Homo sapiens: one gene and its partners. The protein of the gene in region 1 purifies or fractionates together with the protein of each later gene. This does not show direct contact. Each region holds a gene or a part of one and is shown on either strand. Other genes may lie near its edges. The genes, in order: CPNE2, DNM1L, ZDBF2, PIBF1, NEK1, ZNF318 and DDI2.

What was found.
Region 2: the proteins of CPNE2 (region 1) and DNM1L purify together in Homo sapiens (co-immunoprecipitation; 3 studies listed by BioGRID and IntAct, with this or other methods). This does not show direct contact.
Region 3: the proteins of CPNE2 (region 1) and ZDBF2 purify together in Homo sapiens (affinity purification with mass spectrometry; 2 studies listed by BioGRID and IntAct, with this or other methods). This does not show direct contact.
Region 4: the proteins of CPNE2 (region 1) and PIBF1 purify together in Homo sapiens (affinity purification with mass spectrometry; 2 studies listed by BioGRID and IntAct, with this or other methods). This does not show direct contact.
Region 5: the proteins of CPNE2 (region 1) and NEK1 purify together in Homo sapiens (affinity purification with mass spectrometry; 2 studies listed by BioGRID and IntAct, with this or other methods). This does not show direct contact.
Region 6: the proteins of CPNE2 (region 1) and ZNF318 purify together in Homo sapiens (affinity purification with mass spectrometry; 2 studies listed by BioGRID and IntAct, with this or other methods). This does not show direct contact.
Region 7: the proteins of CPNE2 (region 1) and DDI2 purify together in Homo sapiens (co-immunoprecipitation; 3 studies listed by BioGRID and IntAct, with this or other methods). This does not show direct contact.

What each region holds. Positions count from the first base shown.
Region 1 is NC_000016.10:57,113,083-57,116,582, reverse strand, and holds part of CPNE2 (copine-2), read right to left. Parts: intron 3,296-3,500; coding exon 3,116-3,295; intron 1,108-3,115; coding exon 1,033-1,107; intron 1-1,032.
Region 2 is NC_000012.12:32,741,801-32,745,300, forward strand, and holds part of DNM1L (dynamin-1-like protein), read left to right. Parts: intron 1-788; coding exon 789-948; intron 949-1,553; coding exon 1,554-1,610; 3' UTR 1,611-3,500. UniProt on the Homo sapiens protein: Functions in mitochondrial and peroxisomal division.
Region 3 is NC_000002.12:206,273,443-206,277,462, reverse strand, and holds the start of ZDBF2 (DBF4-type zinc finger-containing protein 2), read right to left. Parts: upstream 2,801-4,020; 5' UTR 2,517-2,800; intron 2,454-2,516; exon of another isoform or gene 2,283-2,453; intron 1-2,282.
Region 4 is NC_000013.11:72,820,133-72,823,632, reverse strand, and holds part of PIBF1 (progesterone-induced-blocking factor 1), read right to left. Parts: intron 1,785-3,500; coding exon 1,651-1,784; intron 1-1,650.
Region 5 is NC_000004.12:169,609,784-169,613,797, forward strand, and holds the start of NEK1 (serine/threonine-protein kinase Nek1), read right to left. Parts: upstream 2,801-4,014; 5' UTR 2,439-2,800; exon of another isoform or gene 2,361-2,438; 5' UTR 2,237-2,360; intron 1-2,236. UniProt on the Homo sapiens protein: Phosphorylates serines and threonines, but also appears to possess tyrosine kinase activity. Involved in DNA damage checkpoint control and for proper DNA damage repair.
Region 6 is NC_000006.12:43,335,570-43,338,647, forward strand, and holds the end of ZNF318 (zinc finger protein 318), read right to left. Parts: coding exon 1,589-3,078; 3' UTR 501-1,588; downstream 1-500.
Region 7 is NC_000001.11:15,651,958-15,655,457, forward strand, and holds part of DDI2 (protein DDI1 homolog 2), read left to right. Parts: intron 1-3,500. UniProt on the Homo sapiens protein: Aspartic protease that mediates the cleavage of NFE2L1/NRF1 at 'Leu-104', thereby promoting release of NFE2L1/NRF1 from the endoplasmic reticulum membrane.

The DNA of each region.
Region 1 (3,500 bases):
TTGTGAAGGCATTCATTCATTCATTCATTCAGAGATGGGGTTTCACTCTCTTGCCCAGGCTGGAGGGCAGTAGCATGATCATAACCCACTGCAGCCTCAAACTCCTGGCCTTAAGGGATCCTCCTGCCTTAGCCTTCCAAGGAGTAGTGCTACAGGTGCAAGCCATGCACCTGGCCTGGGAAGGCATTTAGATGGGCCAGTTAGGAACCAAGAGGTTGGGGGAGGTTGTTTGGGAGGTGGTGATCCGTGGGGGCAGGAACAGAGTAAGAGCCTGAGGTATGTTCAGGATATGCTAAGAATTCAGTTTGCTTTGAACGCAGGGCATTTAAGTGAAGGAGATTAAAAAAACACCAAGGCAGGAGAGCCAGGCAGGGTCTGAGGGGTCCTTCACAGCCTTGAACCGAAGGGTTGGTCAGGCAGTGGGGAGCCATGTGAGGTTCCAGGACAGGGGAGTAACACACGGGAACACACAAAGGCATGGCTTCTCCCTCCAGCCTGGCCGGCTTCCCAGGCATCGCGTGGGCTCAGAAGCCAGCCAGACAACCAGGGGACGATCTCGCTAGCTCAGCTGCCCCAGGGAACTTCCTCTCTGGGTCTCAGGGGTGGCCCTGGCTTCTGGGAGTCTTTGAAGACCAAGGAGCTCATCCGGGCGAAGGGCCTGTGCATCTCCAGCGGAATTACTGCGCATCGCGGGAGTCGTTGCGCATTGCAGGAATCATTGCGCGTCGCAGCCACAAGCAGGGCACTGATGGGCAGGGCACTTCTGAACGACCCCCAGGGGAGGGCAGGCAGGGGCCAGTGCAGGGAGGGGGCTGCTGGCAGGGCTCTGGAGGCCTCCCCAGCTTGTCAGCCCCCACTGCATCATTTGTGGAGCCAGCAGCCGGTTGCTAAGAGACCTGTTGCTAAGTTGTAAGTTGGGCCTTTTTACTCCAAACAAAGCTGGTGATTATCTGCCAGGGAAGCGGCCCATTGATGGGGGAGGGTGTGGGGTGGGGATGGAGGGGGTGCGGAGAGCCGGGAGGGGACTGGTACCGTAATCAAGCCCTTCCCCGCAGGCTTGTCATTCAGCAGCAGCAGAGGCCTAGTGATCTTCTTGCTGGAGACGATCTAGGGGAGAGAGGAGAAAGGGCGCTCAGTGAGGAAGCGGGGGAAGCCCGGGAAGGAAAAATCCTCCACCGGCACCGGAAAAATCCTCTTGGCAGGGCTGCACCCCGCCCTGGCTGGCTGGTGACCCGCCTGAGCATCATCATCACCCTGGGAGGTGGACAGCAGCCAATCTGGGCAGTGAGGAGCCTGAGGCCCAGAGAGGGTAAGAGACCCGCCTGAGGTCTCCCGCTGCAGTTGGACTCCCACTGCCTGGTTTGCCCCTAGGAAAAGGCATTTTGGAGACAACTGTGGGAGGTTAGCCCCCTAACTCCCTCCTCCAGAGGCATTCCACAGACCCCACCTGCCTCAGGATATGATCTCTGATGGACAGAGTCAAGCTCAGATTCTATGTATTTTCCTTTTGAGACAGGTCTCGATCACGGCTCACTGCAGCCTCAACCTCCTGGGCTCAAGCGATCCTCCCACCTCAGCCTCCTGGGTAGCTGGGACTACAGGCATGCATCACCACGCCTGGCTTTTTTTTTTTTTTTTTTTTTTTTTTGGTAGAGACAAGGGCTCATTATGTTGCTCAGGCTGGTCTCGAACTCCAGGCTCAAGCGATCTTCCCGCCTTGGCCTCCCAAAGTGCTGGGATTACAGGCATGAGCTATAGAGCCCGGCCAATTCTTTCTATTTTTATTGGTTTCAATAGGTAATACACTTACACAGGGTGCAATAATCAAAACAACATAGAGAGGAAAAGTGGGCCACATTGCAAAGTCACCCTCCCACCTGTGTCTGCCCACTGCACTCAGGGGCCAGCATGGTTCGTGCTTCCTGGGTGCAGTGCGAGCGTCGTCCTGTGCAGCGGGGAGCACACATCAGTATGATCTAGTCCTGCTCCTGTGGGGCTAGTTCTTCTCCGCAGATCCACACACCTGCTCTGTGCCCTGGGGACTGTGCCACCTGGCTCTTTTGCCCTCTGGCTTTCAGAGGTTCAGCCAGTTGGGGGGATGGGCAGGAGACGGGAGAGCAGGTGGCGTGAGAGGTGGGGGCCCCCGTTTGATGGGAGCTTCTCCATTACTCTGTCTTCTGCCTCAGTTGCAGTCCAGAGGCCTCCCTCTATGGGCCACAGGTCTTACCAGGCCCTGGCAATGCCACTTCCTCACCCTGCCTTCCTTCCAGGTGAAGGTGGTCAGCTTTCCTCTGGGGCCAAGCCCTGGACTGGTTTCCCCATCCCTTGTCAGTTCCCTGCCCTGTCCACAAGCCCTTAAGCTCTCTTCTCAGTTATACCACAGGGTAGGGACCCTGACTACTGTACCCTGCTTCTTACGCAAAAAGTAGACATCACAACCATGGCAGTCCCTTGCTTTCTGCATGGTCACCATCTCCTGGAAGGCCCCGGGCATTTCAGTCTCCACTAGGACCCCTCAAAGCATTTTCCATTTCATTCCCTTATCAACCATGTAGGCTGGGCAGAGCAGTCATCATAATCCCCAAGGAAAATGTGGGGAAACTGAGGCCCAGAGGGGGATGGGAGCTTATCCAAGGGCATACAGCCATAAGGAATGATTGAGACTTGTGTCAGGGGCGCCTAGCCCCGCTTGCTCCCGGCCTCCAGGAGCTTACCAAGGACTGAGATGGATGGGGAAGTGTGGCCCAGAGAGGGAAAGGAAGTTTCTCAAGGTCACACAGTGAGTCTGCCACAAAGCGGGACTACTGTGGGTGTCTTGGTTGCTGGTCAGATGCTCCTACCCCCAGAGGTCAAGACCACACCTGATTATATCTAACAATCGGAATCCCTGGCCACCTGGGGCCCCAGATCCTGAGAGGCATTCTGTTTGGCTGCCTCTCCAGATGGGAGCTCTTCAGCCCGGCCTTGAACCCGCCAAGACTGTTCCCCACTCTGCATCTGCACTTTGGGACCCACCCAGGAAGATGGGGCTAGGGAAAGACAGCACGAGAAGAGACTTTTTGAGGGGTTGCCCGGTCTTTGGGCCCCTGCTCCCACCCAGGAGGGCCCAGCTCACCGTGCCCAGGCTGCAGGAGAACTGGCCCAGGAAGTCATGCTCGTCCAGCCGCATACTGGACTTGTCCTGGTCAAAGAGCGCGAACTTGAGCTTCTGTACCTCCTCGAAGTGGTAGTCAAGCACGAACTTCTTGGAGAAGGCGGGGTTGAGGTTGTTGATCGCGGTTTCTGTCCTGTCGTACTAGCAGAGGGGCAGGAAAATGGAAGTCAGAGTCAAGGCAGCTGGTCCAAGACCTCGCAGGCTGCTGGAAATCATTCTGCTAACTTGTACAATGCCTACTCTGTGCCAGGCTCTTGTGGTCATCGTCAGTGACTCACTATCCCCAGCTCACAGACAAGGACACTGAAGCACAGAGAGGTTAAGTGACTTCCCCAGGGCTGGACAG
Region 2 (3,500 bases), on another chromosome or scaffold:
GGAGCAATAGGCTATCCCATATAGCTTAGGCGTGTCATAGGCTATACCATCTACGTTTGTGTAAGTACACTCTGTGCTGTGCATGTAATGAAATCACCTAATAATGCATTTCTCAAAGCATATCCGTGTCATTAAGTGACATATCTTTTGTGTGAATAATACTAGATTATGTAGATATACTGTGTTTAAGCATTCATCAGCTGATGTTTGGATTTTTCTCACTTCTTGGCTATTATGAATAAATGCTTATTGAAGAGTTTTGAAATAAAGATGATGAAAAGAAGGTAAAGTATCAAGAATTGTTGCTTTTGTTTTTTTTTTTGAGACACAGTCTCACTCTGTTGCCCAGGCTGGAGTGCAGTGGCGCGTTCTTGGCTCACTGCAATCTCCACCTCCTGGGTTCAAGTGATTCTCGTATCTCAGCCTCCCGAGTAGCTGGGATCACAGGCATGTGCCACCACACTCAGCTAATTTTTTATTTTTAGTGCAGACGGTGTTTCACCATGTTGGCCAGGCTGCTGTCAAACTCCTGGCCTCAAGCAGTCCACCCGCGTCAGCCTCCCAGAGTGCTGGGATTACAGGCATGAGCCACTGCGCCTGGCCGAGAACTGCTTTTCTTAATGTTTAATTACAGTTAAGCAAAAATCTAAAGGGCGATTATGCCATTAATGAAATATCCAAAGTAGTAGTGTTCTTACTTAACTTTATTTCATGAGGTTAGCATCTAAGCCCAAATTGTTAAAAGTAGAATTTTGGCTAAAATTCCATAATTTGGTTGTGTTTTGCAGTGTGCCAAAGGCAGTAATGCATTTTTTGGTTAATCATGTGAAAGACACTCTTCAGAGTGAGCTAGTAGGCCAGCTGTATAAATCATCCTTATTGGATGATCTTCTGACAGAATCTGAGGACATGGCACAGCGCAGGAAAGAAGCAGCTGATATGCTAAAGGTATTGTGGACCTTTTGATTTTTTATACTTGGGTAGTAGATAGAAACATAGAAATAGTTTTAAATGCAGTTTGATTCTTGGATATGTATAGTCTTTATATTCTAGCTAGGCTTGTTTCCTGTTGGTACTTGATAAGAATCTTTTTTTTTTTTTTTTTTTTTTTTTGAGTGGGAGTCTGGCTCTGTCGCCCAGGCTGGAGTGCAGTGGCACAATCTCGGCTCACTGCAAGCGCCGCCTCCCAGGTTCACGCCATTCTCCTGCCTCAGCCTCCCGAGTAGCTGGGACTACAGGCGCCCACCACCACACCCAGCTAATTTTTTGTATTTTTAGTAGAGACGGGGTTTCACCATGTTAGCCAGGATAGTCTCTAACTCCTGACCTCATGATCCGCCCGCCTCGACCTCCCAAAGTGCTGGGATTACAGGCATGAGCCACTGCGCCTGGCCGGTACTTGATTAGATTCTAATTCCAGAGAAGATATTGGTTAGTATAAACTGGTTAGTTATAAACCTACCACATATATATTGGAAAAATTACCCTGCGTAATTCAGATTAATTTCATAACTTTATAATAAGCATTTAAAATTTTTTTTCCTTTAATGCAGGCATTACAAGGAGCCAGTCAAATTATTGCTGAAATCCGGGAGACTCATCTTTGGTGAAGAGAACTATGTAATACTGAGACTTTGTTGACTCAAAACTTGCTAGTTACTGCCTACCTGAGTAGAATCTTATTTATGAACTCCTGTGTATTGCAATGGTATGAATCTGCTCATGTGGAGACTGGCTATAAACTGAAAAGTGTATTCCAAATTGCAGAACACATCACACATTTAATCCAAATAATAAATGGCTGTTTCTAAAGTTTCCCAGTATATATAAAATACATCAAGTCTGTCTTGTGACAGTTTCATCTGAACTTAACTTAAAAACAACTGTTAATGTTCTAGTTGTGCAAAGCAGTTTGCCTGTGGATAAGATGACCTGTGTAATAATCTTTGTTAGTAGTCTTAAAGCTGCTGCCATAGTCCTCCAAGAAGAAAGCACCAAGACAACATTTCATATGACTATAATGCATGTACTATATAAGCTGATCTGGCTTTGAAAGATGTGAGTTGGCAAGTTCCTCACATAGAGTCATTGTATTCCACCTGTCCTTCAATTTAGTTTTTTCTGAGCTTCTTTGCAGCCTTTGATGTGTTTTTAAGAAAGCTGAATGCACAAGAGGATCTGTGACACTGACATGGCTGTGGTGTGCATACTGTGTAGTTACATAGCCCTTCCAATTCTGGGTCCATTTGCACTAGCAAATTAAAATATGCTTTGATTCATACTTAAACCTGAAAGCAGGAATGCCTACATTAATTCCTACATTAAAAACAGCCATCTACCCTTGATTATCTAGAAAGACTTGGTAATGATGGTCAGTTCCTTTTAGATTTCAGAAAATCAAATGATGACCTAAATTTCCCTTAATTTGCAAATACAGTAGTAATTAAGGTACATCTCTAAAGTGGAGCACTTACACCAGGCTCTAAGATTCACTTTGAGGTGGAACTTAAAACCAGTGTACTGTATGTATGCATTGGTAATAGCTACTTTTGCTTCATAGCTTCATACCAACAAAATATATTTATTAGAATAGTATGAAAGTACTGGAGGAGCTGAAAGAAAAACACCCAAGGCTGGGCGTGGTGGCACACGCCTGTAATCCCAGCACTTTGGGAGGCCGAGGCAGGTGGATCACCTGAGGTTGGGAGTTGGAGACCAGCTTGACCAACATGGAGAAACCCCGTCTCTACTAAAAATACAAAATTGGCCGGGCGTGGTGGCGCATGCCTGTAATCCCAGCTACTCGGGAGGGTGAGGCAGGAGAATTGCTTGACCCTGGGAGGTGGAGGTTGTGGTGAGCTAAGATCGTGCCATTGCACTCCAGCCTTGGCAACAAGAGCGAAACTCCGTCTCAAAAAAAAAAAATAAAACAACACCCAGATAGATACACATACTCCTTCAGACTTACAGACCTAAGCTGCATTTATGGGGTAGTGATGAGGTTTAGAACATATACATATTTTGTTAAAATTCCCCAGATGATTCTTGGTATGAACGACTATATTATAAATTTTAAGATGTACTTAGAAATCCTTAAGACATCTAGCCCCGTCTCTAATAGACAACACATTTATATTGCAGATATTACTTTTTTTTCAGTTTATGACCAGGTATTTATGAAGGACTATTGGCAGGGAAAATATGAATATGTTAACTTTAGCTTATGGCATCAATTTACTAAGGAACAACAGGCTCACCAACTGATGTCAAACATAAAAACCCCCACATCAGTCTGATACGATATGGTACTACTTTGAATCTGTTACTAGTACCATCTTGACAGAGGATACATGCTCCCAAAACGTTTGTTACCACACTTAAAAATCACTGCCATCATTAAGCATCAGTTTCAAAATTATAGCCATTCATGATTTACTTTTTCCAGATGACTATCATTATTCTAGTCCTTTGAATTTGTAAGGGGAAAAAAAACAAAAACA
Region 3 (4,020 bases), on another chromosome or scaffold:
CCTTCTTATTTCATTCATTTATGTAACATTTAAAATTGCATAAACCTATCCCAGGCAGTGAACAGAGATTTCTGAGCTACCCAGATGACTTAGGCAGAAATGTCTTAAAATACAAATAAAACAGCATTTTGTTTTTGGTTTTTTTTTTTTTAAAGAAATATTTCTTGCACACCTGAGATCTGCACCAGCTGCAGAGGTAAACATGGATAAAAATATTTCTGAAATGAGTCTGGAGTTGTCGTGTGTGTATTTCTCAAACTGAGTGTGGCGTGGCAGTGTGGTAAGAACTAACAAAACCCACAATCCTCATAAAACATATTTTTCAACTGCCTGACAAAAGAGACATCAACTTAATTTGAAAAATAATAATAATAAGGAAAGACAATAGAAAGGCATTTGGTTTTCTGAATAAGACAATCTAAATTTTCCGTCCAGCAGTAGGGAAACAATTGAGGAGCAATGACAAAACAATGGCCGAATGCATAAAAAGACCACACTAATTCAGTGTCAGTTCCTCCACACAACACTACTAATTTTCAATTTTCCCCTTTTCTGGATTATCCACGCTATGCTGGCTTTCCTCTGGTGACAAGCATTATCCTAGACACCTCTATTCAGTCTTAATAAAATAATAATAGCTAATACTTAGTACTTAATCTGAGCCAGGCGCTCTGTCAACAGCTTCCTGTGCATTATCTCATCTAAATAACAAACAGCTTTATAAGGTAGCTGCCATGATTAATTCCCATTTAACAAATCAGGGAACTGAGGTTGAGAGAAAAGAGGTATCTTGTTGCAGGTCTCACACCAATAACCAGCGTAACTGAGATGTGATCACTGGTCAATTTGAGTAGTTTATGCTTTAACCTCTTAACGACTTAGACACTTCCTCTCTGTATTTTTAGGAATACTACTTGTTTTAATATTAGGTGAAAACAAATAATTAGGACTCTTATTTGCTGCAATCAACATCACCACTATTCCAAAGAAAAAATAAAACTAATGTCTAGTTTAATTGCATCTTGCTCATTTGAGTGCTGACAGTACCTTGGATTAGCGACTCTCAAGATTATTTAACATGACACACAGGAACCAATAAATTTTTAATTACAACCGAGCACACACGCACAGGCACATACGCACACTTAAAAGATTTTTCACAAAACAATACTCTCATTACATGTAATGCAGTCTGATATTTTCTATGCGATCTTACTTTTTTTAATGCTAGTCACGACCCACTAAATTTCACAATGCACACGCGCACAGTTAAAATATTTTTCACAAAACAATACTCTCATTACATATAATGCATTCTGATTTTTTTATGCGATCTTATTTTTTTTTAAATGCTAGTCATGACTAAATTAATTTCACCATTCACGAACCGGCTGAAAAAACTCAGTTTGAAAAAACACTGCCTCCAATTATTATGCAGAGTAAACCATATTTTATAGAAACCAGTTCTTACCCTGAATTCAGCTTATTTCTATCCAAATCACTGGCCACTGCAGTGATACTTTATCAACTCTCTAACGAGTTGCTTTCTTGCCTTCTAGGCTTTAGGTTCAAACGATAGAGAAAAGGTCTTCCACGTATTAAGTGAAAAAAGCAAATAAACACCCCTTATGTAACACACGTATATATGTTTGTGTATTAATTAAAAAGGAAGGAAAGATACCCCCCAAATTGTTAGCAGATTCTCTCGAGGATGAGATCGCTACAGGCTGCCTCCATCGTCCCTCCCCCTCCCCACACGTAGCATATTGCTGTAAAAAAGAAAAACAAAAACAAGCTATTTCCTTTAGGTGGGGGTGGGGTTTTGGTCCCTTGAGAACCAGTATCTTGTTATGCATTTTTTTCACGAGCTACCAAGAATCATCGCGTGAGATAATCGCAGGAGCTGGTAAGGCCCTTCTTAGGAGCAAGTAAAAACGATGGCGTAACACGACCACATTTACACAACTGTTGCACGGCGGTAGTAAAAGAATCATTAACACAAAAATCAAACGTTTTCAAATAAACTATAATCGCCCGAGGCTGGGAAAGGCCTAGGTCTGGGGCCAGCTGGACCCAACGCAGGGCACTGGGGGAAGGGGGTGTGTGGACAGGTGGCTCGGGATCTCGGCCCCACAGGTGCCCAGGGGCAAGACTCCGCGGGTTCCCGGCCCTCAATCCGACCCCGCAGACCGCCCCCTCCCCAAGCCCGGACCCGAGGCCTCGTCCGCCGGCCCCTCTGACCCAGGGCCCCGGACAGAAGCGCAATGCAGCCTGCGCCCCACCTCCTTCCCTCGCCCCGCCACCTCGATCCCGGCCCGGAGCCGCCGACACCTCTCACGCAGCAGGGGCAGAAAGGGACGCGGGGTGGGGGGAAGCCGAGGACCTGCGAGGCGGCCGCGGGAGCCCAGCGAGCGGTCCTGGCGTCCCTCGGGAAGAAGGCGCCCCGGGCGCCCGGCGAGCAGGCCCCGCCCGCGGGCGTCGCCCCGGCCGCGCCCCGCCCCCGCCGCGGCACTCACCTCCGCGGAGGCTGCCCGGATTCCTTCCGGGCCGCGGTGGAGACCGAGGACCGAGCCGGGCGCTCTCCCTTCTTATTCCGGTTCCGCGGCGGCGCCCGAATCCCAGACCGTCCGAGCGCCACGGCCCCGCTGCCCGCGGAGCCAGAAATAGGCGACTTCGGCCCCTGCGGTCCGGAGGCGAGAAGCGGCGCGGGAGCGCGTCTCTCAGGACGCGGGCCCCGAGTCGCGACTCCACTCACGCAGGCATCCAAGGCAACGTGGCGTTGCAACCCTGATGGAGGTTTGACGTCAGGGAAGGTGCGAAAACCAGACCCCTTCTGACGCAGGAGCGGCGGGACCGCCCCCTGCCCGCCCACCCACTCACTCACTCTCCCACCCGGGCGGAGGAGCCCCTTCCTCCCCTCCAGAAGCTCTTAAAGCGGACACTTCCTCCCTGGTCAGGGCCCCACTCCGGAGCTTGGGAAATCTATCGCGTTCCAACAAAAATGACTAGACTCATAAGCACAGTTGGGACGCGAAGTAGAGACCAAGGTTTTAGCGTTTGAGGGTCCAAATAAAAACTGCTTGCCAATTCAAAGCAACGTATGAATGTAGAAAAGAAAACGGGGCTAAGAGAGCTAGTCGTTTCCGTTTCCATGCCTATTTCATAGTGAGGTGCATCTCACAAAAGCTGCTGTTCAATGAGCGCTTGCTCTGTGCTAGGCACCGTTTAAGGTTTCTATACATTATTGCATTTCATTTCAGAGTAACTCTGAATGAATCCTATTATTGTCCCCCTTTGACAAATTGAGAAAACTGAGGCTTAAGGAAGTTAGGTATTCAAAGATCTATCCTGCACATTAAAGGGTTACAAATATTAACAAACAACATTAGGTCATGCAATTATATTCACTGCGCTACCCCATTACGAATATAGTTGTGAGCAAAAACAGTTTAAGTGTAACGGAGATCACAAACCTAAATGAATCACACTACTGAATATGAAATTATAATCTGCGATAAGAAGGTTCTGAAACACCTAAACCAATTTTACTAAAATGGAGAGAGGCCCTGTTGCAAAGCTTATGTCTAATGTAAAAATAATCTTAAAATGAGCTACTTTGCTCTTTGGCTGTAGCTGTAATTGTCGTTACCCTTTTTAGTAAGCTTGTGATTTTGTCCCTTTAAAGAACAACAACAAAAAAACTTGCCTATTGCTTTTGCGTCCATTGTTTTTATTCTTTCTGTATTTCTCAGCTCCTTCTTCCCCCACTACATCTTTCTCTCACTTTAAAGTTGGGCTCCTGCAACTGTTCGATTTATAACCTCCCTTAGATTTAACATACCAAAAAGTACGGATTTCTTTTAAGGCAAGTTTTTTCCACATCCCAACTTTGGAATTATAGAAAATCCACTATACATTGATCGAAGCACCATGACATTATGTATTTCACAGATGCTAAGCCATGTTTTTCCCCACATTTTAACATCTGTGAAATCAAGATGCATCTTATAAACTCTCGTT
Region 4 (3,500 bases), on another chromosome or scaffold:
ACACAATTAACATCCATACACCTGTTTCCTTTTGTACATTTGTGAGAATTTACCCGGGGCATAAAAGGGCTTTTTTTTCTTCCCCAGTTTATCTTATATTTTATGACCGATGTTTTTAAACTCATTCATTCTGCTGAGTGAACTAAAAAGGGTCATAGTTTGAGTCCTTTCTTGTTTTACTATTCCATTTCTACCATAAAGATGCTTATCATGCTTTTTGATCAAGGTTATATTTTTCTTTCCTAGGTTTTTATTATAGTAAATGAAAACATATGTAAAAATAGAGGTGATATAATGAACACCCATGCTCCCATCACCCAAATTCAGTAATTATCAACTCATGACTCATCTTGTTTCAATGATCATCCGTGGCCCCGATGGATTATTCTGATGACTGTGCTTTTTAGTTTTCTCTTTTTATATTGTATCTGTCATTGCTATAGACTGATAGTGGCAGAGGGGACATGAAAATACCAACTGGTATCATCTTAGCATCATAATCTATTTCATTTTTATTCTTTTTTATTTTATATTTTTAAGAGATGAAGTTTCACTCTGCCACCAGGCTGGAGTGCAGTGGCATGATCATAGTTCACTGCAGCCTCGAATTCCTGGGCTTAAGCAGTCCTCCCACCTCAATCTCCCAAGTAGCTGGGACTAAAGGCATGTGCCACTATGCCCTCTACTTCATTTTTAAATGCTTCTTTTGAACTCCAGCTTTATTCCAGAGCCCACTGAGCACAGCTCTCATGGATTTAAAGCTCCAATAATTATCATATTTTGGCATAATGCCATATACATAAGAAATACCATGTGTCAGTCATAATGGGAGTAGAAATGACAATCTTCTATCCACAAATCTTTGCAAATTCACATACGGTATTATGCAATTTGTAATTTAAATTACACAATTTAAATCATTCATTCATTTAACAAATATTCACTGACTACTACATTTTAAGAATTATTTCAAGTGGAGTGAACAATTAAGATAAGGTCATTCCATTTATATTACATATGCAGTACATATATATTTAAAGGCTTTCATATTTATTTGATCTTAGTTTATATAGTGCAGTTATCCGTATTAGCAACATCTCATAAATGATGAAACTTAGGCTCAGAATGAAAAGAGATGTACTGAGGGACATACAGCTAAGTAGCAGCTCATTAAATTACTGAACAAACAACAGAAAAGAATATTCCAGTTAAAAAAAGGTATTTGCTATAAGTAGCAAATATTAGGAAACATATTTTCAGAAAGTGTCATTTTTTTTTTGAAAGAGTGTGTGTCTTTTGTCAGGAAGAAACAGCTGAAAAAAACTTCAGGGAAAACTGTTAAGTATTTAAATTGATTCCACTACATAAAAATAATCATCAAATAACACTGAAAAAATATTTACACACGTGTGATTTTACTGGGTTTCTATCTCTGTTTACATTTTAAGACAGCAGTGACATCTAAATAAAACAAAAACAACCAATATAAAAATACAATATAAACCCAACAAACTGCCAAAACTGCATGCATTTGTGCAAAGAAGAATAAGGTAAAAGTAAAATTAACAACTGATTGTTGGTAAAAACTCAGGTGACTTTGATGCACCCTAAAAATAGAGAACTACTACTGCAGCCATTTTAACTACTTACCTCTTGACTTTATCATAGTTCTCTTGACGGTAGTCACCTTGCTGAATTAACTGTTTTGTGTCTGCTAATTCTAAGGCCAAACGTTGACATCTAATTTGAACTTCAGAGTAGTTTTTTCGATCTTCCTCATATGTCTATAAACCAAAGGAATAATAACACATTTCAGACTAAACACTTAACATAGTTGCCCAAATTCTGTATTGAAGTCTTCTGTTAAGCTGTGATTGTCCTTGTAATTAAACAGTAAAAAAAATTCCTCAATTTTTAAATTTAGTAATTTTTCCCTATTCAAAGGCAAGTAATCTTAAGTTCACAGAGTGGTCTGTAAACTCAGTTGTTTAAAACTTAAACTGTTTTTCAAATAAATAACACAACAACTATGTTTTAGTTACTAGGCTAAAACATAAAATGACTACAAATGTTAAATGACTTTTTAAAAACATTTACTGAGTTACTATCAGATGCTGAAGATACAGAAGTGAATAAAACACACTTCCTGTTCTTGAGGATTTTACAGTTTAGAGATGAAAAGTCATATGGATATCAGTATCTACAATGAAAAATAATTAATGAAGAGATTAAACATGCAGTTCCAATTGTGTTACTCAGAAAAAAAGGAATCGTGTGACCCTCGAAACACATCTTTACATTGTTCTTCCCTCTACTCTCCCCATGTCAGTAGCATGTTAAGAAAGGCATTGCTGATATGGGAAGAGCAATGGAAGTAAAAACCTTAAAGTTGGTCACAAGGTTCTTTACAATCTGGTGCTGCTTCCTACAAGCCCCATTTCTCACCATTCCTAACATTCACACTTCACCCTCCAACCCTAATGGAGATCTGAAATTGTCTGAACCCACTAATGCTGCTTCTAACCTGTTCCCACTGCCTGAATACCTGCATATAATCTAAATGCTTGTCTCCTTCAGAGCACTGATCTCACTGTATCATTACCATCACATTAGTTTTCTCTTTATCTCACCAGAGTGTAAACATCTTAAGGGTGGGGATTTTGTCTTGCTCAACGCTGGACCTCCACCACTTTAAACACTGCCAGGTATATAATAAGAATTAAATAAAAGCTAAAAAAGAAATGATTAAATATGGGAAGCTGGGAGGGGAAGCAGACGGGACTAAATTCCTACTTATTTTCCTTCTTTGAACTCATCAAATCTTGCAACCAATCATCAACTCCACCTTCAGAAGCTGGCATGTTAAATGCATCCTGTGTTAAGTCATTACTGCTTAAGTAGCTGGCCAGCTAAATGAGGTCATGTTCACTCCACACATACTGACTGGATCATTTCTGTGTGACTGGTCACGGATTAGGCACTACAGATACAAAGATGAGTAAGACGATTTTGTCCTTTTTAAACTACTAAATGTAACTTTGATTATTTTAGTCCCCAAATTTCTATCAAAGGGCTATTTGAGAGAAGTAATTATGGAAAAACTACATTCAGTGTGTTTTGCTTTGGTATGGTATTATGTTCTTGTTCTACGCTGAAGTTTTCCATGAGAATGGAATGTTACTATGGTACTTATTATGGGATTACAGCTGAGGATACGCTATCACCTCCCGAAAGATCATCACATATATCATTTCGGACCTAAGTCCTACAAGAATCTTTAGTTCTTCTGAAGAATGCTTTATCCTTCTAAACATCATTAATCATGTCACTGTTTTGGAAGAGAGTATAGTGTTATGGCTAGGAAGGCAAGCTCCAGAATTCAACTGTCTAAAACTGAATTCCTGCAGTAAGACTCTGTGCACGTTAGTTTACCTCTCTATTCTGGTGTCCTACCTCAGAGTTCTTGTGAAGCATATATCAAGTAATACATGTAAAGTGCT
Region 5 (4,014 bases), on another chromosome or scaffold:
CAATAAATATTAAAACAATAATATCTGATAGAAATAGTAAGAATACTGGCTAAATCAATTTCTCCAATTAAAATCCTTCAACAATTCCCCATCTCCAAACTCCTCACTTTTGACATTCAAAGTTTTCTTATGGCATCATGCTTCTTTTCAAGTATATGAACTATGCTCCAGAAAAAAGTACCTCAGCCTCTAGTCAAATAAGACAGCTTTCCTCACATTTTACTAAGAATTTCTTTTTTTTTTTTTTTTTCTGAGACAGAGTCTTGCTCTGTTGCCTAGGCTGGAATGCAATGGTGCCATTTCGGCCTCCGAGGTTCAAGTGATTCCCCTGCCTCAGCCTCCCAAGTAGCTGGGATTACAGGAGTGTGACACCATACCCAGCTAATTTTTGTATTTTTAGTAGAGACGGGGTTTCGCCATACTGGCCAGGCTGGTCTCGAACTCCTGACCTCAAATGATCCACTTGCCTCGGCTTCCCAAAATGCTGGGAATACAGGTGTGAGCCACAGCGTCTGACCCAGAATTTCTTTCTTTTTTTCTTTTTTCTTTGAGACAAGCCTCACTCAGTCGCCCAGGCTACAGTGCAGTGGCAGTATCTCGGCTCACTGCAACCTCTGCCTCCCGGGTTCAAGCAATTATCCTGTGTTAGCCTTCCAAGTAGCTGGGATTACAGGCACGCACCACCACGCCCGTCTAATTTTTTGTATTTTTGGTAGATATGGGTTCGCCAGGTCAGCCAGGCTTGTCTCAACCTCCTGACCTCAAGTGATCCACCCACCGTGGCCTCCCAAACTGCTGGGATTACAGGTAAGAGCCACAGCACCCAGCCACTAAGAATTTCTTTAAAGCCACAAATAAGCAATTTTGGACATAATAAAATTTTGTGAGCCACATATAAACAATTTTAGAGTATATGAATGGAAAAGCTCAACTTCGATCAATCTGGAACACATACTTAGGTTAAGCATTAAGCTCTCATCAGGTGTTTCAGATATTCTATAGACAGGCTGTCTTGAAGGGAAACATGGTAAAGGCATGGCAACAGGTTTCAAGAAGTCTTTTGGCGCTGTATGCAGCTACAATCCATACATACAGTTCTGCCTAAGCAATAAATACCATCTTGAATAGTGGGAGGGGATCCATTTATCTTCTCAGGAAAAAAGTTCTTTATCTTCCTTTATTCGAAAAAGCAGAAAGCAAAAATGGAATTTCTATTAGACTTTTTTCAAAATATTTTTTCTTCTCTGTAAGTCTATTCAGACAATATTCAACAGATTTTGTAGTAGAAACTACCAACAGGTAAATAAAGAATGTACATTCGTGAAAAGGTGTCATGTTCATGACTTAGACTAGAAGGCAGGAGATTAGACAGGGCAAAATTTACTTGGAATACAATGTCAATGTACTATTCACACGACCTCAAAAGAACTTCTGTGGTCAAGTCCGACGACCTTTATTAAATTCCTGACAGTGACTTTTAACGTGAAAAAAACCTGTTTTCCCACAAAATAGGCTCCTTACATTTCACCTAGAACAATGGATATTTTAAGTGAAACAGATCTGTAGAACCTCTAAAACCAGACAAATGTAAACTAGAAACAAGGAGTTACTTCTCTCCAAATTTGGCTCCCCTCCATCAGCTCTACAATACTGCTGCATCATAAAAAAAGGTCATTAACTTAGATTGGATGCCACTTTTAATCCTTCATAAACATTTCTAATGAAACATACCAAGGCAATAAAAAATATTTCTGCTTCCTAAAGCAGATCTTAAAGAACAAAAAATAGGCCTGCAAAAAAAGTTATGATAAACTCTTAAAGTAGTACAACAATTAATGCCTTACATATGGAAACTGTGTCAAATCATGGAAACAGAAATCTAAGATTACAGGGTAACCAGCTAACTACTACTCATATTCGCTTCCTAATTAAAATTTATCAGTAATTTAAGATTGGACACAACATAAGCAATGCAAATGCTTGCTTATCCATACTAAGATTCCTATTATTTTAATCCCATTACCGCTCTAGTTTTTAAAAATACCGTAATGTCCAAGAATCGCTTTGTTAATACAGAGTGTCTTAGAGAATTAACATTTAAATGAGATTAAGGTATTTTCCCTGCAAACACTTAAGGTATCTGTGTAATCTCAATATAAGCAGTTCTACGCACATCTCATTTCCAGGATGATTTTTACCATTTTGCATGTCATTCCTTCCCCCAAGTGGAACTCACCTCAGTGACACAGGACGTTAGTAGGAATAACGGTGATGACTAATAAGCATCAGTCTAGGTGTGGCAGTCTTCCTACGGGGCTTAATAAAGCAGAGGTACCATCCCGCATTTTGAAAATGACATCCTGAAAGAGAAACCAAGACTGTCTAACCAGCAGCAGCTCACAGTCCAGACTGAAAGGGGGCACTGAGACTCTCCACACCTGACACTCGTCTTCAGTTGATACCACGGGTTTGACTCCGTCCTGTCTCGGGCGACGCCCGTAAGACAGGTCGACACTACCCCGACGAAACAAACAAACTGGTTTCTGAGCCCCGTAGAAACGGCGGGGTGCAGCAGGGGGAGTGCCTCCGTTACCGCCTCTCCAACTTCACAGAGGTCGTTGCTAGTGGCCACGGCGGGGTGGGGACGGGCGGCGTTCGGGACTGGGAAGCTACTTGACTGCCACGTGCTCCTGCCTCGCAACAGCGGCTCTAGATTCCGAGTTATGGGGACAACTGCTCGAGAGGCCAGGGTAGGGTAAGGACTCCGCAACCTAGGGTCCCAAAACCCTGGAGCGAATGCGGACTAAGGGAGAGCGGCCGGCGCGTCACCGGCGCTGGCGTGTGACGTCAGCGCGTGGAAGGCGGCACGCAGCGGAGGCGGCTGGGAAGGAGCAGTGAGGCTGGGCTAGAACCGTAGGGTCGGGCGGGGTGCTGTGCGAAGGGGCGGGCGGGGTGCTGTGCGAAGGGACGGGAGGGGCGGGCTCTGCAGGCGGGAAGACAGAAAGGACGAGACGGGAGAGATGAAAAGGATGGAGAGAGTGTAAAGCTGTTAAGAGTCATGCAGAGATGCGGGAGAGAACTCACTAGTTGAAACCAATTTGGAATATAAAGCATATAAAATTTTCCCACAGCTACTACACCGAGAAAGGGACTTTTTTATTTTACATGAAAGCGCACTACTTAGGGATGCCACATTTTAAAGAGCAATTTTGCTTTAAAAAGCAAGTCTTTTCCTATTATATCTTGGATGGTTGAAACAGAAGAATGTTTAAGTCTTGAGATATTTTTAAAAAGCTGTATGGGGTTTTCTACACCTTTACATCTAATGTATGTATAAATTACTTGTCTGTATGTTGAAGGGTTTGGAAATGTACAGCAGTCTAAGTACATTTTTTCACTGCAGGACTGGCGAAGGTAGGAAGAGATTCCCCTAAAACTATAATAAGGGATATCATCTGGCGTCATCCTGAGTGGCCCTACTCAGGGCAACTTTATTCCTAGGGACATTGAAAGATTTTGGCGGCTTTGCCAGACGATGGCGCTGCAAGTCACCCAACCTGAAAAGCTGGAGAGTTTGTTTTATCTCCTCTTCAATCGCCATACAGCTACAAAAGACTTATTTTCCTCATTCTTTCTACTTCTAGTCTACACTCCTGTGGGCCCTCCTACCCCCAGTTAGTAGGAATTATCATGTCTGAATGCACAATTGTAGTTCTACCCACATCCTTTTGTACATCAAAGTGAAGTGAAATGTTGCCAATTACTAATCTAAGCAAATTCTTTTTGCTGCTTACAGGAAGAATGGCTAGTCAGCTAACCTCCTTAGATAATTCTTTAGGCTCATGTCATAAACTATTGGTAGGACTACAAACTGCTACAGTCTTTCTAGAAGGTATGCTAGCAGTATGCATATCCTTTGACTCAGCAATTTAACTTCTGGAACAAGTGAGCAATGATTTATATACAAGGATAACCGTTATTGTTTATAACCAGAAAAACTAGAAATACTGTAAA
Region 6 (3,078 bases), on another chromosome or scaffold:
ACAGGAAAAAAAAAATTGGGGGAGCGGGGAGGTTAATCCAGATCAGCAATTTTGTATTATCTTTGAGGAACAGGTGGGTAAATAAGACTCCGAAGGCCCTGTTGAGTCAGGTTATAAACTGCTGACAACAGGGATACAAGAGGAAACTGGGACAGAGAAAATCTGAGGACTGAGCTCCCTAATTCCCAAGAGCAAGAACCTGATTGTCCTAGGGGAGCTCAGTTCCCAGAAAATCCTACGGAGAGTCAACACAAAGGTATATAAAAAGCTTCACAACAGGAAGATACCAATACCAGACAACTGTTGCCTACTCACTACCCACCCAGGCTGCGCTGGGGCAGACTATATATCCTAACATTCTGGCATGAAGTAGTTCTGACAAGTGAGGAAAGCATGGTTGCGGGTGCGGATAGACAATAGGGCAGCAGGGATTCACTGTTCTAGTTTTCCTTTGGAGTTCAAATGTGTGTGATTTCAAAACAAAAATCCAGAAGGAAACATGAGATTAATGCATTTATTCCAAGTAATTAACACATTAAAAATAAAGTTAAACTTGTCCAAGCCAACTCATAAATTCTTTAATCTTTTTAACAAAATATACAACCCCAAACATCGTACTATGGTTGAAATTAATTGGGAAAGGAGGAGGTAGAGGAAAGGATACATATGGGTTTGTGGAACAGGGAATGAGTTCAATCTCAAGACAAGTTTCAGAGATCTTCTACCCCTTCACAACACAAATGGCTGCTAAACAATTTAATACAAAGTGTTATTGGATCACAATACAATGAACAAAGGCCATTTCAAAAATAAAAGTGATCTCAAAAGCATATCTGCTCCTGGCAATGAACCATGAATAAGCCTTACCGATTTGTCGTCTTCTAAAAGTAAGCCTGCCAGATATTCTTCCATGTTTATTTCCAAACAGGTTTGTGGGTTAGCAGGACAATGCATCTCAAGAAAGGCAACAGAGTAAGGGAAGTACAGGAGTTGACATGCCAATAAGGGGTGTAAACAGTAAACAAAAGAGCTACTCACGCTGCATTTCAAACAATGTTAAGGCAGGCCCATCCAAATGGAAGCCTAAGAGATGAACAATTCTTCCAAGTTTTCCATTTCAGCAAGCTTTCTGGTGTTTTTCCCAGAGATGCATCAACTGCCCAGGAAATTGGGTAGGAATACAACACAGCAACTGGAGAGGTCAGCTGCCTCCATCCTCCCCCACATTTCAGAAATGGCAGAGTCAAAGCCAAAATACAATCAAAGCACACTATGTGGTGAGCCAGTTAGACATGTGATTTTAATGACAAAGTGGGAGAAAATAAATTGGCCAAAAAAATTAACAAAATACATTTTTACAGATATATATATATATATATAAGTTGTTATCGATTTGTCTGGTGTTTTAAGGGGAAAGGGAAAAGGAAAGGAGGTAAATTTTTTAGCTTCCATGAACATTTACTTTAAGATGCTGACTGCATCTCTTGGTGTAGGTTCCAGATGAGATAACAAACTAGTCTTGGATCATCTGGGCATCTGATTTCTAGAAGCCAATGATTCACTCACAAGTAGCTCTAGGTATTTATTCTTAGTTGTGAACACTGGATTCTGTGTGGTCCTGGATGGCACCAACTGTAGTTTCCTGTTCAGGCATTCCCTGAGGGACCATATTGTCTTCAATTACCTGCTCCCTTGGAGGGGACCTTGACACTGGAGCTTTAACCAAATTCAGAGGGTCGCCACTGTCATCATCTACTTGCAGAATTGCCACCTCTGTGGTGGATGCATTCGATATTTCTAGCTGTAATGGCCCCAACTCCAGGGAACTACATTTAGAAGGGTCACCTGGCTCAGAGAGTGGAGAACACAGTTTATCTTTTTGAACTCCAGAGGTCCGTGTGACAAAGTCAACAAGGTCTGGAAGGCAAGGAGATGGCCCAAGGCCTGCAGAATTAATTGTTTTTAATTCCAATCCGAGTGACTCTTGTTTGTCTAATTGGGAAGATTCTTTTACTTCCTCAGGCATCATTCCTCCTGCTAACAGGTCAAGGGCCTGGTGTGTTCCCTCTAGGCCCCCCAAGCCACGGTCAACATTTTCTGTAAGTCCAGTTTTCAAAATGTTAGGAGAAGGGATCCTAACACTCCTGGGATTAGGTGAGTTTCGTTCACCCTCTGTCTCAAAGTCAAGCACCAAGGTTTTGGGAGAATCTAACGGAAACCCAGAAAAAGATGGGATTGGTTCGAAGTCAGCGGGATCGGAGGAATTACACCCTATAGGTGATACAGAATTTTCTTCACACACTTTCTGACACAAGACAGTTGGGGATCTATGTGCTGGGCTTACCCGAGTAGTGCAGAAATCAACAGGCATATCCCCCAGATTCCCCAGGGCAGTAAGCTCCTCTACCTTTAAGTCTGTAGCTTCAAAGTCTTCTAGGGCCTTGCTTTCTATTGTCACTGTTAACTCTGGATGGACATCTTGTAGCTCCAGTGCTTCTGTTTTTGGTTTCTCTGGGCTCTCCCAGGTCTCTGGCCTCTTCTTGTTTTCATCCCAAACAGCCAACTCATAGATCTTTTTAACTTGAAAGTCTTTTGATCTTTCTCTCTTGAGTTTGAGACTTCTGTACCTAGAAGTTCTAGAAGCTGATTCTGGAGCTGAATTCTCTAGCCCCTCCTCACTAACAACTGAAACTCCTTGCTCTTGTGGACTACCTGTTAAACACATAGCTGATCTGGCTGGGGAATGAAGCAGCAACTCTGGGGCAGAAATTTTCACAGGTGTATCTTGTGGGTTGAGTAAAGACCTAGCTTCTGATAAAAATGAGTCTAATTTTGCCTTTGTGAAAGAGCAAGCCTGTGGACTCAATTTGATCACTACTTTACTTGGAGTTTCACTTCCTGTCATCAATTTATTGGACTGTTCAGCCTCTTTGTCAATCATTAGCAAGTTGGGCTGTTTTACTTCTCCCTCCCACATGTATCTGTTTCCATGGTTCAAATTAGAATCATCTATGCTGTGGGGTCCAATGCTGGTACTTACTCCCTCATCAACTATCCCCTCAGACAGCTCCTTTACCC
Region 7 (3,500 bases), on another chromosome or scaffold:
CTTCAGAAGGGGTAGGAACCTTTCCAGTTTTTAATTAGTCTCATGGTCCAGTAGTAGATGTGTTCATTATTTGTCTTCTTAACCTCCTTCTTTGATCTTCCTTTTTTTTTTTTTTTTTTTTTTTTGGAGACATTGTCTCACTCTGTCACCCAGGTTGGAGTGCAGTGTGCAGTGTGACATGATTGTAGTTCACTGCACCCTTGACTTCCTGGGCTCAAGCAGTCCTCTCACCTCAGCCTCCTGAGTAGCTGGGACTACACCTGGCTAATTTTTTATTTTTAGCAGAGATAGGGTCTTGCTGTGTTGTCCAGGCCTATCTCCAACTCCTGGGCTCAAGCAGTCCTCCTGCCTTGGCCTCCCGAAGTGCTGGGATTACAGGTGTGAGCTACCATATCCAAACCCCATCTCTTAATACAATAATGAAAAAGTCTGTATTCTGGCCCGGCGTGGTGGCTCACGCCTGTTAATCCCAGCACTTTGGGAGGCTCCGGAGGGGGGGGGGGGGGGGCGGATCACCTGAGGTCAGGAGTTTGAGACCAGCCTGGTCATGGTGAAACCCCATCTCTACTAAAAATATAAAAATTGGCCAGGCGCGGTGGCTCACGCCTGTAATCCCAGCACTTTGGGAGGCTGAGGCAGGTGGATCACGAGGTCAGGAGATGGAGACCATCCTGGCTAACACGGTGAAACCCCGTCTCTACTAAATATACAAAAAATTAGCCGGGCGTAGTGGTAGGCGCCTGTATTCCCAGCTACTCAGGAGGCTGAGGCAGGAGAATGACATAAACCCAGGGGGCGGAGCTTGCAGTGAGCTGAGATCGCACCACTGCACTCCAGCCTGGGTAAGAGAGCGAGACTCCATCTCAAAAAAAAATAATAATAAAAATTAAAAAAAAATTAGCAGGGTGCAGTGGCACACCCCCCGTAACCCCAGTTACTTGGGAGGCTGAGGCAGGAGAATTGCTTGAACTTGGGAGGCGGAGGTTGCAGTGAGTCAAGATGGCACCACTGCACTCTAGCCTGGGCAACAGAGTGAGACACTATCTCATAAAAAAGAGAAACATTCTGTTTTTTAGTATTTCAACAGATTAAGAACAGCTCAGTCCATTGCTGTGTTTAAGATAGATTGGGGTTATTTTGCTTAGACACATTTTAGAAGCTTCCTAAATTTTTTTAGGAAGTTTTTTTTGGATGTTTTTGTTTTTGTGATTTTCCTAAAGAAAATTTTGACAGTAAGCAGATGTTAACTTTTGAGTCCAACAGTATTTCCCTATTTCTTTCCTTTTCTTAGGACTGTTTTATTTTATTTTATTTATTTTATTTTATTTTATTTATATAGACAGAGTCTTGCTCTGCTGCCCATGCTGGAGTGCAGTGGCGCAGCCATGGCTCACTGCAGCCTCAGTCTCAGTCTCACAGGCTCAAGCAGATCCTCTCGCCTCCGCCTCCCAAAGTATTACAGGCATGAGCCACCATGCCTCTTAGGCCTGGTTTATTTTGAAAAGTATCATTGCTACTGTGTGTGAGCAGCCCTAACTTCACCGAAGACAGAAGAACCAACAAAAAGAAGTATAAATTTTTATTTACTTAATTAAAAAAAAAATTTTTTTTTGAGACAAGGTCTTACTCTGTCACCCAGACTGATCCTCCCATCTCCCCTTCCTGACTAGCTATGACTACAGGTGCCTGCTACCATGTCCAGCTAATTTCTGTATTTTTTGTAAAGATGAGGTTTTGCCATGTTGCCCAGGCTGGTCTTGAACTCCTGGGCTCAAGCAATCCACCCGCCTCAGCCTCTCAAAATGACAGGATTATAGGAACGAGACACCATGCCTGACCAGCATAATTGAACGTTACTGAAAATGCAGTGTTATGGTGTGAGATTACAGTATTGTCATCAGGCCATATTAGCACTGTATATATTGAAATCATGCTACCTAATACTTTTTTCTAAGTCTCAGTTATTTAGCTTGTTTAAATGTAATGATGGAGCTAAGTTTTCTAGGTAAAATGGGGTAACAGTTTTGCTGAAATCCCCCATTTATTATAGAACGGTGACTCTGGGATGTATTTTCTAGAAGCTGAATAGAATTTACTTTTGAGTTTGGGTTATTTTACAGTCTTGTGCTGGCATTATTCATCAGTATGACTAGTATCACACATTGCTTTTTCTAGTACAGTAAATTATTAAGAGTTACAAGTTCAGGGAATAGCTTTATCCTAAAGACGAAAGTGGTAAGAGTTTTAAAAACAGCCAGGCAGCTTTTGCCACTGTTTTACTGGAGAACATTCAGATGTCTGTCATTGAGCTTTAGAATGGGTGTGGGTGGCAGATGGAGTTTTCCAGGTTGACTTTGTTCAGAATCAACTCCATCACCTTTTGGCTTAGTTTTATGTATAAAGTACAGTTTGAGTCAGGGCGTGGTGGCTTATGCCTGTGATCCCAGTACTTTGGTAGGCCAAGGCAGGACGACCACTTGAGCCTGGGAATTTGAAACCAGCCTGGGCAACATAGTGAGTCTTTGTTTCTACAAGAAATTTAAAAAAAAAATTAGCCAGCCATGGTGGCGCGCCTATGGTCTCAGCTGTTTGAGAGGCTGAGATGGGAGGATCACCTAAGCCCAGGAGGTCAAGGCTGCTGTGAGCCATCATCGCTGCCACTGCAATCCAGCCTGGGTGACAGAGTGAGATCCTGTGTCCAAAAAAAAAAAAAAAACAACAGAATTGACTCCCATCACTTTTTGGCTCAAGTTTTTATATTAACTACAGTTTTGGTTGTAACTTAAGTATTTTGTAGGAAGGGAGGAATTTTGAACAACCAGACAGAGACTAACTTAATAGTTTTAATCTTACCTGCAAGGTAAGCTTGAATGAATTTGACATAGCTCCTTACAAGGTTTTGCATTTGGGGTGTAATTTATCATCTTAGTCGTGATGCTGTGTGTTAATATGAGGATATATTATCATTTTATGAAATGTCTTTTTTTTTTTTTTCCTTTTAACCTCCACAGTCTTGGTGCCATTATTTAAGAAACATTAGCTGATAATAGCAGTGTTTTCTAACCTACTAATAACAGTTATCCTTTTTTGGTAATTACCTTATTTTAGTAAAAGTTTGGAAGATTAAAACAGATACACATATGTTTCCAGGCTTAGTGAAGGGGATGTACCAACTTCAAAGAATTAAAAAGAAATGGCTTTTTACCTAAATAACCTTTTGTTGCTGGTAGTATAGCTTGTGCTAATTTTTGTAATGTTTAAGTAATGAAATAATTCTACATATCAGGTCCTTTTTATTTAGAACATCGACTTCCTAATATCATCCGAATAAATACTCTGGACATAGTAGGTGAAAGTATTTTGTTAACAACTTCTTTCTGGCCAAGCATGGTGGCTCATGCCTGTGGTCCCAACACTTTGGGAGGCTGAGGTGGGGAGATCACTTGAACCTATGGATTTGAGACCAGCCTGGGCAGCATGGCAAAACACTTGTTTCTAAA